Regions from separate parts of the Homo sapiens genome. Here all the other regions are reported to be linked to region 2. Evidence: microRNA targets listed by miRTarBase, many of them from high-throughput screens and not tested one by one. Region 2 holds a microRNA gene; each other region holds the end of a gene's coding sequence.

Region 1 (4,064 bases), not on the chromosome of region 2:
TCGAGCCCCTTCCGCTGCAGCCCTCCCTGAGCCCAACGCTCCCTCCTCGCTGTCCGGCTCGAGCCCCTCCTGCTGCAGCCCTCCCCTGAGCTCAGCTCTCCCTCCTCTTCTCAGGTGCCTCCTACTTCTTCCGTGGCCAGGAGTACTGGAAAGTGCTGGATGGCGAGCTGGAGGTGGCACCCGGGTACCCACAGTCCACGGCCCGGGACTGGCTGGTGTGTGGAGACTCACAGGCCGATGGATCTGTGGCTGCGGGCGTGGACGCGGCAGAGGGGCCCCGCGCCCCTCCAGGACAACATGACCAGAGCCGCTCGGAGGACGGTTACGAGGTCTGCTCATGCACCTCTGGGGCATCCTCTCCCCCGGGGGCCCCAGGCCCACTGGTGGCTGCCACCATGCTGCTGCTGCTGCCGCCACTGTCACCAGGCGCCCTGTGGACAGCGGCCCAGGCCCTGACGCTATGACACACAGCGCGAGCCCATGAGAGGACAGAGGCGGTGGGACAGCCTGGCCACAGAGGGCAAGGACTGTGCCGGAGTCCCTGGGGGAGGTGCTGGCGCGGGATGAGGACGGGCCACCCTGGCACCGGAAGGCCAGCAGAGGGCACTGTCCGCCAGGGCTGGGCAGGCTCAGGTGGCAAGGACGGAGCTGTCCCCTAGTGAGGGACTGTGTTGACTGACGAGCCGAGGGGTGGCCGCTCCAGAAGGGTGCCCAGTCAGGCCGCACCGCCGCCAGCCTCCTCCGGCCCTGGAGGGAGCATCTCGGGCTGGGGGCCCACCCCTCTCTGTGCCGGCGCCACCAACCCCACCCACACTGCTGCCTGGTGCTCCCGCCGGCCCACAGGGCCTCCGTCCCCAGGTCCCCAGTGGGGCAGCCCTCCCCACAGACGAGCCCCCCACATGGTGCCGCGGCACGTCCCCCCTGTGACGCGTTCCAGACCAACATGACCTCTCCCTGCTTTCTAGCGGCTCGGCTGGGCTCCCTGGTGCTCCAGGGCCATGGGAGTGGGTACCCTCGGGCCTCAAGGGGCTTGACCCTGACCAGGGGCCCACGCACCTGCACTTGGGGTGGGGGCTTCCCAGGAGGTCTCGGCAGTCGCATTCCTCCTTGTTCATCAGCCCGTCCCGCGCTGTCTCTTCCAGTCCTCGTGCCCCGAGGAGTCCCCACGCCCCTGTCACAGATGGGAGAGTTGAGGCCCAGCGGGGGATGAGCCTCAGTGCTACAGGCAGGGGCATCACGGGCGGGCGGGGCGCCAGCTGGCCCAGTGAGATCTGAGTGTGGGAGGTGCCCGAGGAAAGGCATCAGTTGTTGGGTGAGCCACTTGGGACGCTGTCTGCCCCGCAGCACTAGACCATGATGCCCGGCCGAGCACCGGGACCTGGGTGCGCCCAAGAGGGAGGGTAGGTGCTCCCTGCGCAAGAGGGAGGGAGGGTGCTCCCTGCAAGGGGCTGATTCTAGCTCCAGCCACTCTGTCACTTGCTCCCTTTGCTCCCAGCCTCCAGATCCACAGCGGAGTCCCTCAGCCTGCCCCCACTCTGGCCGGCGAGTGACGCGTCTGTCCTGCAGTACCCTCTTGTTCAGAGGGTGCAGCCGATGCCACTCTGCAGGGCCCAGTCCTCCCGCTGGTGCACAGTCCTCTGGTCTCTGCGGCACAGACGCACCCCGGGCCACAGGTTCGGGGCCTCAGGCTCTGGCTCACCAGCATCTGCCCTGGGCTGTGGAGGGCCCGGGTGCCCCCTCAAACGTGACTCAGTGAGGATGAGGAGGTGGCCGTTGGACTGTGGGGGATTCACTCCCACATAGCAGGAAGTTCCTGACCACAGGCCCAGCATAGGGAGCGGCTGGGGCCACCCAGGGTGCAGATGAGGCTTCCTGGCACCCAGGAGCCAAAGCCCACAGCCCCCTTGTCCCATCCCAGGGATGGCACCCATCCCAGGATGAGGCTGCCAGGGCCGGGCAGGCAGGCCCCAGGCCAGGCCTCATGGAGCCGGGCCACCTCCCCGTGAAGAGAGGCCACATCCTCATGGAGTCCAGCCGTGTCCTCTGTCCCCCGCCTGTTCACCATCTGCTCCCTGGAGCAGGAGGAGTCCCTGCCTGTCAGACCAGTCTGTGGAAAGACCGACCTCCCTCCTGTCTGTCGGGGACACTGGCTCTGCCCTGCACCAAGTGGTGTTTCCTCATCACGCTTTGTTGCCCAGCAGCCTGTGGGGTGAATTCCCCCGTGCAGCTGGCCCAGCCCCGTGGTCCCCACGTCCTGGGTCGTGCCCCAGTGCAAAGCCGGCTGTGGGCCTTGTCTGCTGAGTCGGGCTCTCACGTTGGCAGGGCTCACTGCGGTTTTGAAGTCCAAACTCTCCGTCATAAGCCTCTTCTGCCGGTCCTATCTCTGGTGAAGAGGTGAACCGTAGGCGGGGCAGGGGGGCTGCTCTGAACTTGCCTCTCCATGCTGCAGCCCACCTCCCTCTGGCAGTGGGGTGGCCGTGCTGGGTCCTGGGGCAGGGCCTGGAGCCCCGCCAGCCCATGACGCATTTCATGAGCCCCCACCTTTTGATATGCACATGCAGCTGAGGCTACCCTGACCCCACATTCAAAGTCGGAAATCCCCAAAACCCAAGACCTTTTGAGCACTGATGGGCTCGGGGTGCACACAGAACATTTGGGATTTCACTTTTTTTTTTTTTTTTTTTTTTTTTGAGACAGAGCCTGTCGCCCAGGCTGGAGTGCAGTGGTGAGATCTCAGCTCACTGCAACCTCCGCCACCCAGATTCAAGTGATTCTCCTGCCTCAGCCTCCCGAGTAGCTGGGATTACAGGCAGGCACCACCACGCCTGGCTAATTTTTGTATTTTTAGTAAAGACAGGGTTTCAGCATGTTGGTCAGGCTGGTCTCGAACTCCTGACCTCAGGTGATCCACCCGCCTCAGCCTCCCTGAGGTGAGGCTAGGATTACAGGCATGAGCCAACACACCTGGCCAAGTGGCAGTATTTGAAAAAAGAAAAGCAGAGAAAAATGCTCAACCTGTAAGTATAATGCAAATATAGTGTCCAAACTCCAAACAATCTGAGCTCCAAAACACTTTTCTGGTCCTGCGCGTCTCGGATGAGGAACACGCGGGCAGGGCGTGTTGTTTTGTGGAAAGGATCTCATGTTCATAGAAAGCTGCACCCGCAGCATGAGAGTCCTCTGCATCCTTTGGGAGGCGCTGACCACCCTGAGCTCGCTTCTGTGTCTCCTGGAACGCAGGTGTCCTCCCAAGGTCAGAGTTGGGAAAGACACGCAGCCAGTGGATCTCAGATCAGAGGATGCTGCAGGGACAGACCTCACCCAGGGCAGCCTTCTTTGGCCCGGCACAGCTCCCGGGCCTTCCCCGACCCCTGTGACCTCGCACCTATGAGGGCTGCCGGCCCGTCCTTCTGTGGTCCATGCCCCCGGCCTGTCCGCCTGCACCTTCCTCGTGATGGGACCTCGGTTCTGTGTCTTCAGCAGGCAGTTTTCCATCTTCGCCTGAGTCACCATCTAAACACCTGGAGACTTCACGTGACGTTCTGGATTTTCAGAGTCACTGCTTATACCTCAGGCTGTGCTGGCCCAACTTGGAGAAGCTGTGCCCCCAGGCCCAGGAGGCAGGGCATCGCCAGCCCACAGCCACAGTCAAAACCCTCCGAAGGAGGTCAGAGGACCCACGCCACCCCAGTGAGGGGCAAGGACCTCTTCCCTTCTTCCTTCCACCCCAGGGAGGTCAGCCTGGAGGCCCAGGGTCTCTCTTGAGCCACACGGCCGGGCCAAGGCACTGGCTGCCCTTAGCGTGACCCAGGCTTTTGACCAAAAACACACAGCCCCATGGGTGCTATACAACGCCTCTGCATGGGAGACCTCCGAGGCCAGGACACACCCTCTCCAGCTCCCATGATACAGGAAGGGAAACTGAGGCACGGTGTCTTAGCTCAGCTTGCCGTGACAGGCTGCTGTAGACCATGCGGCTTCCACATGGGTGACCTCTGAGGCCAGGACACACCCTCTCCAGCTGCCGTGTTACAGGGAGGGAAACTGAGGCACGGTGTCTTAGC
Region 2 (4,064 bases):
GTCAGCCAGGCCGAGCATGCCAAGTGATCTGGGGTTATAGACAGCAGATTAATCTCAAAGCTGGAACTTCTTTAAGACCAGGAAGTAGCCCCTTTTCTGATTAAAAGACAAGTCAATAATTCTGGGTCCTTGGTCCACCACTGTGATATGTCCCTTGCAAAACAGGCACTCTCAGGCAGTCTTCCCTGCAGAGCAACCATGATGGATACTGACTACTGACTTGAAAGTGCTTTGACACCCCCAGATGGAAGGAACTAATCAATTATGCTTCTCACTTAGAGGCACCCTGCTCATTCATGCTGAAGATAGAAGTCCAGATAAAAGTAGAATTACTGGGAGTCCAAGATCCAGAAAGAAAATGAGAGAGCTCAGCTGGTCACTGTGAATGATGTGCATGTGCCCCAAGCCTTTGAAACACATGACATTTTCCAGCAGCCAAGCACTCATCAAATTGCAGAATGTCGAAGCTACAAGGAAACTTAGCAATTATTTAATGATCTAAATTACTTTTATTATAGTGAAGAGGAAGCTGAGGCCTAGAGAGGTAAAATAACCTGTCATATAGCTGAGCAGCGAAAGGAACAGACTCATTACCCTAGTGATCTCCTGTCACACAACCCATCTCATGAAGCTCTCTCTCAGGTCGAGTTTAATAGATGAGAGAACAAGGGGTAGTCTGCCTATGCAAAGCAGGTACACACAATGAGATCAGAGCAAAGGGGATTTCCTCCCCTGAAGCTAAACAGCCCCCATAAGTGATGTTACGTGTTAGGATAATTTCCTTGGTGTGCTGGAAGATGTTTCACAAGCATGGGTGGTGGGGACCCTTATTTGCCATATTTGCCAATTTCTATAGTGTAAATACTCTCATCATGGCAGATTTCAAGCTACCAACTTGATGCCACTGAACAGCAGTTGGGGAGAGATATGTGCAATCAGCTCTTGTGAGCTGATAGAAGCTGGATCCTCCACACCACTGGAATTTCTGAGAAGTCTACATCACGGGTTTAGGAATGAAATAACTTTCTGGCCCACAAGAATAAAACACCCAGGTTTATGAGGAAAATCCTAGCAGCACACACTCTAGGTTTCACTCACTGAAACTCTGATTCTCTCTGGATCTCCTGGACATCACAGTTCCCATATCCATGGGATCCAGAGAGAATCAAAGTTTGGAGAAGTTACTTGGTCCATCATGTCTGTATCTCTGGGTAGTATCCTACCTAATTGATCCAAGGCAGGAGCACTGAGAGGTGGAATCCACATTCCCTATCTTAATGCTTTTGGCAACCAAGCATTCCTTTCCCAGCAGTAACAGGATCCAGTTTCCAAGGTGATATGTGAGCTCAGAGCCCCATCTTTACCAACGTCAAAGGCAGTGCTTGGATTCAGCTTCAGGTAGGCCTCCTCTGTTCATGTAAGCAGGAAGGAAAACATGTAAAACTGAATTCCTCCTCAATTTCTTTCTTTCTTTCTTTCTTTCTTTTTTTTTTTTTTTTTTTTTTTTTTTTTTTTTTTTTTTTTTTTTTTTTGGCTGAGAAGAGTTCCAAGGCTGGGGCAGCAACTCATCAGGAAAAGTTCTTAGCCTGTGCTTTCTTTTTGCCAAACATTGATTTGCTAATAGAGAAAATAACTGGTGTATAAACAAAAGTGGTTGATGACATCCAAGGGTCTGGAGCAATTCCTCCACATCGTTCTGACAGCTAACAAATGGAACTAGCTCTTAGGGAGCATGTTTAAGGAACAGCTGGAATATGTAACGGACATTTTTCTGTGAATTTGACAGGTCAAGCTCCATCACGGTTGAGCTACGCTCACCGGACGTGGATCAGAATGAACTCTGCCATTCCTCAGAAGGTTGCCAAGAGGGCTTTGAAGAGAAGGGAATCCAAGGAACTCAGTTTCAGACATGGAGAAGAATAAAGACCAGACAAATCATGAGCAAACCTGATTTAAAGAGAAAGATCTATAAATACCAGTTGCTCAGCTTTCTCCCTGGTTTCCTGACCCTATGATGAGCTCCACCAAAATTAAGTAAGTATAGCCCTTTCCAGAGGGTCACTTGGAGGGAAGATCCTGCCATATGTCGCCTATTGGTCTTTAGCCTCACCACCACCCCAACATCTGATAAAGTCAACAGACGTGAGTTCCTAAAGGATACAGAATATACAAGATACTTTCCCTTATACAAGGATTCACTCTAAGCATCGTTAAAATGGCAAACTCACCTGGGACCCCTAAGATAACCTGATTTACCAAAATCTGGTTTATCCTTAGCATATGAGGAGCACATCCATTCTCTAAAGCAAGGAGATTTTCAAGATCAATGAGCAGAGAAACTTCTCAAAAGAATTTTATAGAATTTTTTAAGATAACAAGCAAACTAACAAATGATTGAGTAAACCTGGTACTATTCCTTTTCTTCTTCCAAACTCAAGGGAGTTATTCCAAACAATAACATACCTAGAAAAGAACCTGTGAAGATTGCAAGATTATCTAAAGAAGCCACCGGGGCAAGAGCGGTGGACATGCTTCTCCACACGGCCCTGCACCCAGACCACTCATTGTGAACTCCACCCAAATGCATAAACCTTTGGGAAGCAAAGGATGAATTGATTAGCTGCAATCTGTAGGCCCAATCAATCCATCTCCACACTGTAGGGACCTGCACAGAATCTCTCCTTAAAGTCTAGTCTTTCATGAGGAGAAATTCACCTCATAAAAGACATGATCAGAAGACATGACAGCCTGGAGGAGCAAACTACTGCTAGGTCAGTGGAAGTTCTCCTCCTGTTTGTGAAAGTGAGGAGAAAAGCACAGAGCATTTGTCCCTCAGCTTGTCTCCCTTGCAGTCTTCTCACTTATTATAATTCAAAAATTACCTCCATTTCAAGGAATCCTTCTCCTTCAGAGCTTTCAGCTCAAGGTGGCCTGGTTTGATCTCTCCTGACACCACTTCCTCCCTCCACCCCAAAGTAGATTAGGATCACCTTGGATAACCACCAGAACTTGATGATTAAAACATTCAGAGCAAAAAGATCTTCAGAGGTCATGCCAACTGATAAGCCAAGTTAGTAGCAAGGCATAAAATAAGGCATTACTGTCTTTGTTCTGTGCTGATCCATGCATTGTCCTACCTACCATGCCAGCACTTTGGTCTGTGAAATATGCAGAAAAGGCAAGAGAAACACAACTGCTGACAAGAGGATGAGGAAAGGAAGAGCACTTCCAGCAGGCATTCGCTGCCTTGCCTTAATACTTAGCACTTCCACAAGCCTTTTCATCTTCAAAGCACTTGAGGAACACTAGCTAATTAATCCTCCCAACATCCCTGCAAGGTGAGGAAGGATTATCTCCATTTTACAGATGGAGAAATGGAATATTTTGAACACAGGCATAAAACCCAGTGACAGATAGAATTGCCAGAAACTGGGCTGGGATCCTTCCTGGTGTCTTTGATGCCCACTCAAGCCTGCCAAGGTATCTCATCCCCAACCTGAGGACTGCCAAAAGCTCCTAACCAGGATCTAGCCGAGCAGACAGAGGGCCAGAGGCAAGACAGACAAGGCTCTCATGCTAACCCTTCCAAGTCTCTAATTAATTCATTATCTCACTGGACTGTCTGGTTAGGGGAGGCCTCTTTTGAAGCTTAGATGGAGGAGGAGGAGATGCCTGCTCAAGTCTTCTTCTAAGCAATGATTCGATATTCCTCTCTTATATCTTCACCCTGGTTGATATTTTAAACCATTGATGAAGACAGCACATGCAATGATAGAAATCCACATTAAATCCTTCCTGGAACCAAGGCAGGTTCTAAACAAATACATGAAAAGCCATTGGCACAGTGCTTTTATTATTCAAGTTTTCTCATATTTTGAGACAGGACTTTCTCTTAATCAAACATCAGCTGCAAATGCCAGTTGGAACCCTGATCAAAACCTCCTAATTAAATGCAGTGTAGGAATTTCATGTCTATCCCAGGCCTATTACTCAAGGCATGGTTCCAAACTGTGGTGGTCTTAGAATTTCTTGGATTTTTCAAAACGTCTAAAAATCACTTGGAG
Region 3 (4,064 bases), not on the chromosome of region 2:
CTTCCTACCCCCAGGACCTGTCACAGCGGCTGCCCCACAGCAGGGGAGACAAATCCTCTGCCTTCCCGGATGACCTGGGGTAGCAGGAGCTAAGGAGCCATCTCCTCAGATTTGGAGCGTGGACAAGAGTTGTCACTTTTGTGTTTCCCTTTCAGCACCACCCACCATGGCCCCAGGCTTAGCTCAACCCAAAGCCATAGCCACCACCCTCAGTCCCTGGAGCTTCCTCATCATCCTCTGCTTCATCCTCCCTGGCATCTGAGAAGAGTCATTTAGAGTGACAGGTACTGTGGGCAAAACTGTGAGGGGAACGAGAGACAGATGGGTGAGGTGGGAGGAAGGGAAAGGAGAATTTCCAGAGTCCCACCTCTCCCCATGGCCGGGACCTTCTCGTTCTGACATGAGACAGGTGAATGAGACCTGGTGTCGCCTGTTTGCAATGACCTGGGCAGCTCAACCTTGAGTTCTGATGGATTCTCACCATCAGGGCCAGAGGGAAAGGGAGGGACCCATATCAAGGCTCAGGGCCGGTTGAGTTCAAGAGGGTTTAGACAGTTCAGGCCTATTTCACAGCAGGTTTCTATCTGGGAAGGGTAGTGGTGTGTGGCCTGCAGGCAGCAGGAACTCAGGCATGGGCAGTCTGCACAGTAGGAGAGGAGTAGCATGGCCACTTCACCAAGGATGTCAAGGGAAGGGGTGTCCCTGGAGGAGGCTAAGAAGAGAGAAACCTGGGGGAATCCCAGGACGAGGGGGCTGTGAGGGCCTTGGCCCACCCAGTTCCTAAGGCTGCATTCCCAGAGAGAGCACCTTGAGTCCCAGCAGTTAAGGTGGAAGGTGAAGAGTAGAGCGTGTCCAGGATGAGGTTTAGGAAATGGCCGAGCCCCTTGGACCCATGGGATTCCTGGCTAGGCCCTGGGACGATGCCACTGCCATTCTGCCTCGTGCACACTCCAGATCCTGAGCCAGCTGATGGCCCTGCCTGGAGCAGAGTGGACTCAGCTAGGGCAGCTGAGCTGCTGCTAGAGGTCCGTGGTCACCACTGAGCTTGGCCAGGAATGAATGGGGCAGGGCAGGGACAGTCCCATTCAGAGCTATGGGTGCAGCTCCCAGGGTGAGGAGAGGCTGAGAGCGAAGGAGAAAGAAGGTTTGCCTACAAACCCACCCAAGGCCAGGGAACATGGATCCAGAGACCTCTCTTTGGACAGGGCTCCCCCAGGTCCTCTAGACCCTTCTATGAAAGGGAGGAGCAGGCCCTGAGTGAGGGTGCAGACCCCTCATTACCAGCCTCAGGTCTGAGCCCCTATGGGCTGTAACAGGACCTGGGCTGCCTCTGTGGTGTGGTGAAGGAGGGTGGAGGTTGGGAAAGGCTGCACAGCCAGGGGTAGGGTTGGAGGGAAAAACATGTTCCTTATCTGGGGGAGAAGCTCTGAAATGGGGAGGGCCTGGGAAGGATCACCCAGGAGAACAGACCCAGGTTTTTCTCAGCCACTTAAACCAATGCTTCATCTTTCCTCAAGGTGGAAGGTGATATCAAGAAGCCTCTGTTAGCCTGGTCTGGTTCCTGCTCTCCCTTCAGGGAGGCCGCCTGTCTACTCACCACTGTGCCTTTCTGGAAAGCAGGAGTTCAAGCCTTAGCAAGCCCAGAGGCCCCCAGCAGATGATGAGGACATTGTCGGCTCAACATCTCAGGCCACTCATTACCTTCGCTCATGATCCCAGCAGCCATTTTTCTTTTTTTTTTTTTGTTTTTTTTTTTTTTTGAGACGGAGTCTCGCTCTGTCGCCCAGGCCGGACTGCGGACTGCAGTGGCGCAATCTCGGCTCACTGCAAGCTCCGCTTCCCGGGTTCACGCCATTCTCCTGCCTCAGCCTCCCGAGTAGCTGGGACTACAGGCACCCGCCACCGCGCCCGGCTAATTTTTTGTATTTTTAGTAGAGACAGGGTTTCACCTTGTTAGCCAGGATGGTCTCGATCTCCTGACCTCATGATCCACCTGCCTCGGCCTCCCAGAGTGCTGGGATTACAGGCGTGAGCCACCGCGCCCGGCCAGCCATTTTTCTTAACACCTTCTGCCACTTTCTCTCGGTGCTAATGGATGGAATTCCTGCACAAGTTTTAACTGAACAAGAAATCCCAGCAAAAGGCATTTTCTTTCTACTTCTTTGATTGTGGAAAAGCAGACATTTCTCTGAAGCATGACCTTATTCTTCGAAACGGTATTGCTAGTAAAATAGCATGCAGGACTTCAGACCTCAGGGATCCTTTCCATGCACTGACCAAGAATTGTATTAATCCTTTTTATCATTATAGTTTTTTTACATTTTCTCATTCTGTCAACCATATTGGAGTGAAGTGGCATAGTCATCACTCACTGTAATCTCCAACTCCTGGGCTCAAGTGATCCTCTAGACTCAGCCTCTAGAGTAGCTGGGACTACAGGCGCATGCCACCATGCCTGGCAAATTGTTTTATATTTAGGTAGAGATTGGGTCTTCCTATGTTGCGCAGGTAATAAAACTGTGAAAATCCTGGAATATAAGCTAAGAAATACCAATGTGGACATAGGGCCTGGCAAAGATTTCATGAAGAAGACACTAAAAACAATTGTAACAAAAACAAAAATTGACAAATGGGACCTCATTAAACTAAAGAGCTTCTGCACAGAAAAAGAAACTAGCAACACGGTAAACAGACAGCGTGTAGAATGGGGAAACTATTTGCAAACTCTGCATCTGACAAAGGTCCAATATCCAGAATCTACAAAGTACTTAAACAATTAGACAAGCAAGAAAAAAAAACCCAATTAAAAAATGTGCAAAGACATGAACAGACACTTTTCAAAAGAAGACATACAAGTGGCCAACAAACGTGAAAAAATGCTCAATATCACTAATCATCAGATAAGTGCAAATCAAAACTGCAATGAGTTACCATCTCTTACCAGTCACAAAGTTGGAGATGGTGGTGAGGCTGCAGAGGAAAAGAAACAGACACTGTTGGTGGGAAAGCAAACTTGTTCAGCCGCTATGGAAAGCAGTTTGGAGATTTCTCCAAGAACTTAAAATAGAACTACCATTCAAGCCTGCAATCCCACTACTCGGGATATATCCACAGGAAAAGAATTCATTTTATCCAAAAGACACCTGCACCAATATGTTCATTACAGTGCTATTCTTACTAGCAAGGACACAGAATCAACCTAAGTGCCCAGCAACACTGAATTGAATGAAAAAAATGTGGTACATAAACACCATGGAAATCTATGCAGCCACCAAACACAGCAAAATCATGTCCTTTTCAGCAACATGGATGGAACTAGAGGCTATTATCCTAAGCAACCTAATGCAAGAACAGAAAACTACATACTGCATGTTCCCATTGGAAAGTGGCAGCTACACATTGAATTCACATGAACCAGAGGCACTGGAGATTACTAGACAGGTGAGACAGGAGGGGCACCTGGGCTGAAAAACCACCTGTTGGGTACCATGCTTACTGTTTGAGTGATGAGATCATTGGGACACCAAGCCTCAGCCTTCCAAAATCTACCCATGTAACAAACCTGTATGTGTACCCTTTAATCTATAATAAAGGTTAAAATTAAAGATTCGTAAGTAAAATAAAATGACATAGAGCCCTCCAAAAAATGGGGTTAACTGAGTGGAACGAGAGAACTTTGCACTATGAACGCTAACCCAGATCAAAAACTAAACTCTAGTCATTTAAAATAATCGTAAGTTGTATATGATGATAATTGTATAAAAGTTATACGTGAAAGTGCCAAACCCTAAAATTAAACACTGCATAATGAAATTATACAAGATTTCCATTTCCATCTTGTTCTTTATACCCTTACTTTTTTTTTTTTTTTTTTTTTTTTTTGCCAGTTTCAAGTGACATTTTTTTTGTTTATCCTCAGGAAATCCTTGCTGTCAGCCTTCTCCTTCTACACCCACCCCCTCCTTTTCCACCGTCCACATCAGCTCTTCCTCTGGTCTGGGACTGTGGCATTCTTGGCACTGAAGGCACAAGAGCTGCATTCAGCCTCAGGAGAGAGGAGGACA
Region 4 (4,064 bases), not on the chromosome of region 2:
AGCGGGGGTGGGCCTTGTAGGATCAGATGCCGACATGGTGGCCCCCGGCTGCAGGACATCCGGAACACGGTGGGCAACGTGCCCTTGGAGTGGTACGATGACTTCCCCCACGTGGGCTACGACCTGGATGGCAGGCGCATCTACAAGCCCCTGCGGACCCGGGATGAGCTGGACCAGTTCCTGGACAAGATGGACGATCCTGACTACTGGTGAGGGCTGGTGGGGTGGGGCCAGCAGCCGGGGTGGGCCCGAGGGGTGGGGCAGGGCTGGCGGGGTCTGACTGGCGGTCTCCAGGCGCACCGTGCAGGACCCGATGACAGGGCGGGACCTGAGACTGACGGATGAGCAGGTGGCCCTGGTGCGGCGGCTGCAGAGTGGCCAGTTTGGGGATGTGGGCTTCAACCCCTATGAGGTAGGTGGCAGGGGCTGGCCCCTGGGCGGCGGGGGTCCTGGAGGCACCAGCAGGGCCTCAGCCACTCTGGCCCACACGCCCACATCTTCTCCCCCAGCCGGCTGTCGACTTCTTCAGCGGGGACGTCATGATCCACCCGGTGACCAACCGCCCGGCCGACAAGCGCAGCTTCATCCCCTCCCTGGTGGAGAAGGAGAAGGTGGGGCACACAGCCCCTGGGGCTTGGCCTGGGCTGACCGCCCCGCACTGCCCGTCCTGACCCGGCTGTCTATGCAGGTCTCTCGCATGGTGCACGCCATCAAGATGGGCTGGATCCAGCCTCGCCGGCCCCGAGACCCCACCCCCAGCTTCTATGACCTGTGGGCCCAGGAGGACCCCAACGCCGTGCTCGGGCGCCACAAGATGCACGTACCTGCTCCCAAGCTGGCCCTGCCAGGCCACGCCGAGTCGTACAACCCACCCCCTGAATACCTGCTCAGCGAGGAGGAGGTGGGCCTGCATCCTGGGGGCCGGGACCCTGTCCCCATGCTTCCCTGTGACCCTCCCCACCCCTGTGTCTTGGTCTCCACAGCGCTTGGCGTGGGAACAGCAGGAGCCAGGCGAGAGGAAGCTGAGCTTTTTGCCACGCAAGTTCCCGAGCCTGCGGGCCGTGCCTGCCTACGGACGCTTCATCCAGGAACGCTTCGAGCGCTGCCTTGACCTGTACCTGTGCCCACGGCAGCGCAAGATGAGGGTGTGTGGGGGTGGCACACCAGGGGGGTGGCACAGGGGGCAAGGCTGACCTGGCGCTCTCCTGCCCCAGGTGAATGTAGACCCTGAGGACCTCATCCCCAAGCTGCCTCGGCCGAGGGACCTGCAGCCCTTCCCCACGTGCCAGGCCCTGGTAAGTGGAGACTAGGGGGCTGGGGTTGCACCCTCCCAGTCTGACTCCTCACTGCCGCCGCCTCCTCAGGTCTACAGGGGCCACAGTGACCTTGTCCGGTGCCTCAGTGTCTCTCCTGGGGGCCAGTGGCTGGTTTCAGGTGGGTCCGAGCTGGGGGCAGCCTTGAGCTGGGGGGCAGGTGGGATGGCCAGGTGTTGAGAGCTGTCTCTGCCGCATCCAGGCTCTGACGACGGCTCCCTGCGGCTCTGGGAGGTGGCCACTGCCCGCTGTGTGAGGACTGTTCCCGTGGGGGGCGTGGTGAAGAGTGTGGCCTGGAACCCCAGCCCCGCTGTCTGCCTGGTGGCTGCAGCCGTGTAAGTGGAGGCCCTGGGGGCTGGGGAGCCAGGGGTGGCACTGTGCTTAGGGGCCGTGTCTGGGCCTGGCTCACAGGGAGGACTCGGTGCTGCTGCTGAACCCAGCTCTGGGGGACCGGCTGGTGGCGGGCAGCACAGATCAGCTGTTGAGCGCCTTCGTCCCGCCTGAGGAGCCCCCCTTGCAGCCGGCCCGCTGGCTGGAGGCCTCAGAGGAGGAGCGCCAAGTGGGCCTGCGGCTGCGCATCTGCCACGGGAAGGTACGTGGGGCGCCTTGGGGGTGAGGCTGCAGCGGGAGGGGCCCGGCTCAGCCACTCAGCCAGCCTTGCTCTCCTGCAGCCAGTGACGCAGGTGACCTGGCACGGGCGTGGGGACTACCTGGCCGTGGTGCTGGCCACCCAAGGCCACACCCAGGTGCTGATTCACCAGCTGAGCCGTCGCCGCAGCCAGAGTCCGTTCCGCCGCAGCCACGGACAGGTGCAGCGAGTGGCCTTCCACCCTGCCCGGCCCTTCCTGTTGGTGGCGTCCCAGCGCAGCGTCCGCCTCTACCACCTGCTGCGCCAGGAGCTCACCAAGAAGCTGATGCCCAACTGCAAGTGGGTGTCCAGCCTGGCGGTGCACCCTGCAGGTGAGGGGTGGGGGCGGTGCACCCTGCAGGTGAGGGGTGGGGGGGGGGGCGGTGTACCCTGCAGGTGAGGGGTGGGGGTAGGGGCAGTGCACCCTGCAGGTGAGGGGTGTAGGTGACGGGCAGGGCAGTGCACCCTGCAGGTGAGAGCGGGAACACCTGCATCACAGCCTTTGGCCCTAGGTGACAACGTCATCTGTGGGAGCTACGATAGCAAGCTGGTGTGGTTTGACCTGGATCTTTCCACCAAGCCATACAGGATGCTGAGGTGAGGAAAGCTGGGGGTGGAGGCGGCCAGCAGAGCCCCTCCCTTCAGCCCGAGCCTGCCTTCAACCTGGTTCCCTCCCCCCAGACACCACAAGAAGGCTCTGCGGGCTGTGGCCTTCCACCCGCGGTACCCACTCTTTGCGTCAGGCTCGGACGACGGCAGTGTCATCGTCTGCCATGGCATGGTGTACAAGTGAGTGCTGACCCTGCCTGGCCCCCTCCCCAGGGCAGTGGTGTCTGGCCGTGCCCTGAGCCCTCCTCGTCCCCACAGTGACCTTCTGCAGAACCCCTTGCTGGTGCCCGTCAAGGTGCTGAAGGGACACGTGCTGACCCGAGATCTGGGAGTGCTGGACGTCATCTTCCACCCCACCCAGCCGTGGGTCTTCTCCTCGGGGGCAGACGGGACTGTCCGCCTCTTCACCTAGCTGTTCTGCCTGCCTGGGGCTGGGGTGGTCGTGCTGAAGTCAACAGAGCCTTTACCCTGTGCTGCCTGGTGCTCCCACCTTCTTGAATTGGGGTTGCCAACAAAGCCGCCCCCACCACAGCGCCGAGCCTTCCCCTCACTCAATTTTGCAAAAACAGTGGGGACAACACAGCCAGTCCAGGGCACCCTCTGGCCCATCCCCTAAGAGGCTCAGCATCGCACCCTGTCAGTCACTCGCTGGGAGCAGATGAGTTTATTGGGCACATCCCTCACTGAAGGGCTTGGGTTTGGTCCCCAGCAGTGCCTGTTCTGGGGCCAGGCCCCTCCAGTCGTGTGCCCAGGCTGTGGTCCTCAGGAGGCCCTGTCTTGGAGCTCAGGCACAGGTCTGGGTGCATACTCCTCGCTGGGGGTGCTGGCCGGAGCCTTAGGCGAGCTTCACCAGGCGGCCCAGGGCCTCAGCAGCCCTCGTCCGCACCTCGGGGGCCGGGTCCTTCAGCAGGATCTGGAGCGCTGGGGGTAGAGGAGGGGGGCTGCCTGCGGGCTGTGACCTCGGCATGCCCATGCCTGCGCGTGGGCCACGCTCTCCTGACAGCCTCTGCTGGGAGGCTCAGGAGCCAACGGAAAGATCGTTTTTCCTTTTTTAGTGTTTTTTAAGCTCTTTTGGAACAGTTAAGAAGTTTCCGTGAATTACTAGAGACGATGAGGTCACCAGTGACAGGGAAAAAGTCCTGAAATCCAGGAAAATCACTTAGTCCCTGCGGGTGCCTACAGGGTCAGCAGGGCCCAGCGGAGGGGCCCCGTGGAGGGGTGCTCACCCGCAATGAGCTGGTCCAGGTCCACCTGCGGCTGCTGCCTGGGCTCCGAGTGCAGCACCAGGAACCCTGTGAAGTGGGGGCATCAGGCGGGGCTGCCGGGCGGCGTGGGGGTGGGGCAGGGGGTGGTGCTTACCGGTGAACAGGGGTGCAGCAGCTCGGACGTTCTCCCAGCTGCTCTTGAAGTAGAACAGGCAGGTGGTCAGGAGACGGCCCAGCAGGTCTGGGAAATGGTGCATCTGGGGAGAGGCCTGGTCAGTGCCGCCTGGCCCCGCCCCACCCACCACGCCC

What was found. Region 2 holds the annotated microRNA hsa-miR-4768-3p (CCAGGAGAUCCAGAGAGAAU, at 1,109-1,128, opposite strand). A microRNA usually pairs through its seed, bases 2 to 8, with sites in the 3' UTR of a target mRNA and lowers its output. Matches are read on the target gene's strand: a 7mer-m8 pairs with bases 2 to 8, a 7mer-A1 pairs with bases 2 to 7 and ends in A, and an 8mer does both.
Region 1: the mRNA of MMP17 is a reported target of hsa-miR-4768-3p. The part of its 3' UTR that is shown has no 7-base or 8-base seed match.
Region 3: miRTarBase lists ULBP3 as a target of hsa-miR-4768-3p. Seed matches in the 3' UTR shown: 7mer-m8 at 1,856-1,862 and 8mer at 1,973-1,980.
Region 4: miRTarBase lists MROH1 as a target of hsa-miR-4768-3p. Seed matches in the 3' UTR shown: 7mer-A1 at 3,313-3,319.

What each region holds. Positions count from the first base shown.
Region 1 is chr12:131,850,811-131,854,874 of GRCh38, forward strand. It overlaps MMP17 (matrix metallopeptidase 17), which reads left to right. Exons shown (of 10, transcript NM_016155.7): 10 at 115-961. The coding sequence ends at 464. Among named protein-coding and RNA genes, the nearest start is that of MMP17, 24 kb to the left of the region's middle. RefSeq lists an enhancer at 637-806.
Region 2 is chrX:17,422,991-17,427,054 of GRCh38, reverse strand. It overlaps MIR4768 (microRNA 4768), which reads right to left and starts at 1,174; the gene lies at 1,101-1,174. All of the region lies in intron 1 of NHS (NHS actin remodeling regulator), which reads right to left.
Region 3 is chr6:150,060,805-150,064,868 of GRCh38, reverse strand. ULBP3 (UL16 binding protein 3) reads left to right here. Exons shown (of 5, transcript NM_024518.3): 4 at 156-284; 5 at 1,518-3,816. The coding sequence ends at 262. Among named protein-coding and RNA genes, the nearest start is that of ULBP3, 6.3 kb to the left of the region's middle.
Region 4 is chr8:144,261,062-144,265,125 of GRCh38, reverse strand. MROH1 (maestro heat like repeat family member 1) reads right to left here. Exons shown (of 44, transcript NM_032450.3): 42 at 3,910-4,012; 43 at 3,777-3,842; 44 at 3,200-3,471. The coding sequence ends at 3,386. It overlaps BOP1 (BOP1 ribosomal biogenesis factor), which reads left to right. Exons shown (of 16, transcript NM_015201.5): 4 at 55-209; 5 at 295-412; 6 at 510-611; 7 at 689-901; 8 at 984-1,145; 9 at 1,215-1,295; 10 at 1,365-1,434; 11 at 1,516-1,648; 12 at 1,725-1,905; 13 at 1,985-2,273; 14 at 2,454-2,538; 15 at 2,623-2,730; 16 at 2,809-3,081. The coding sequence ends at 2,962. It overlaps MIR7112 (microRNA 7112), which reads left to right and starts at 2,389; the gene lies at 2,389-2,453.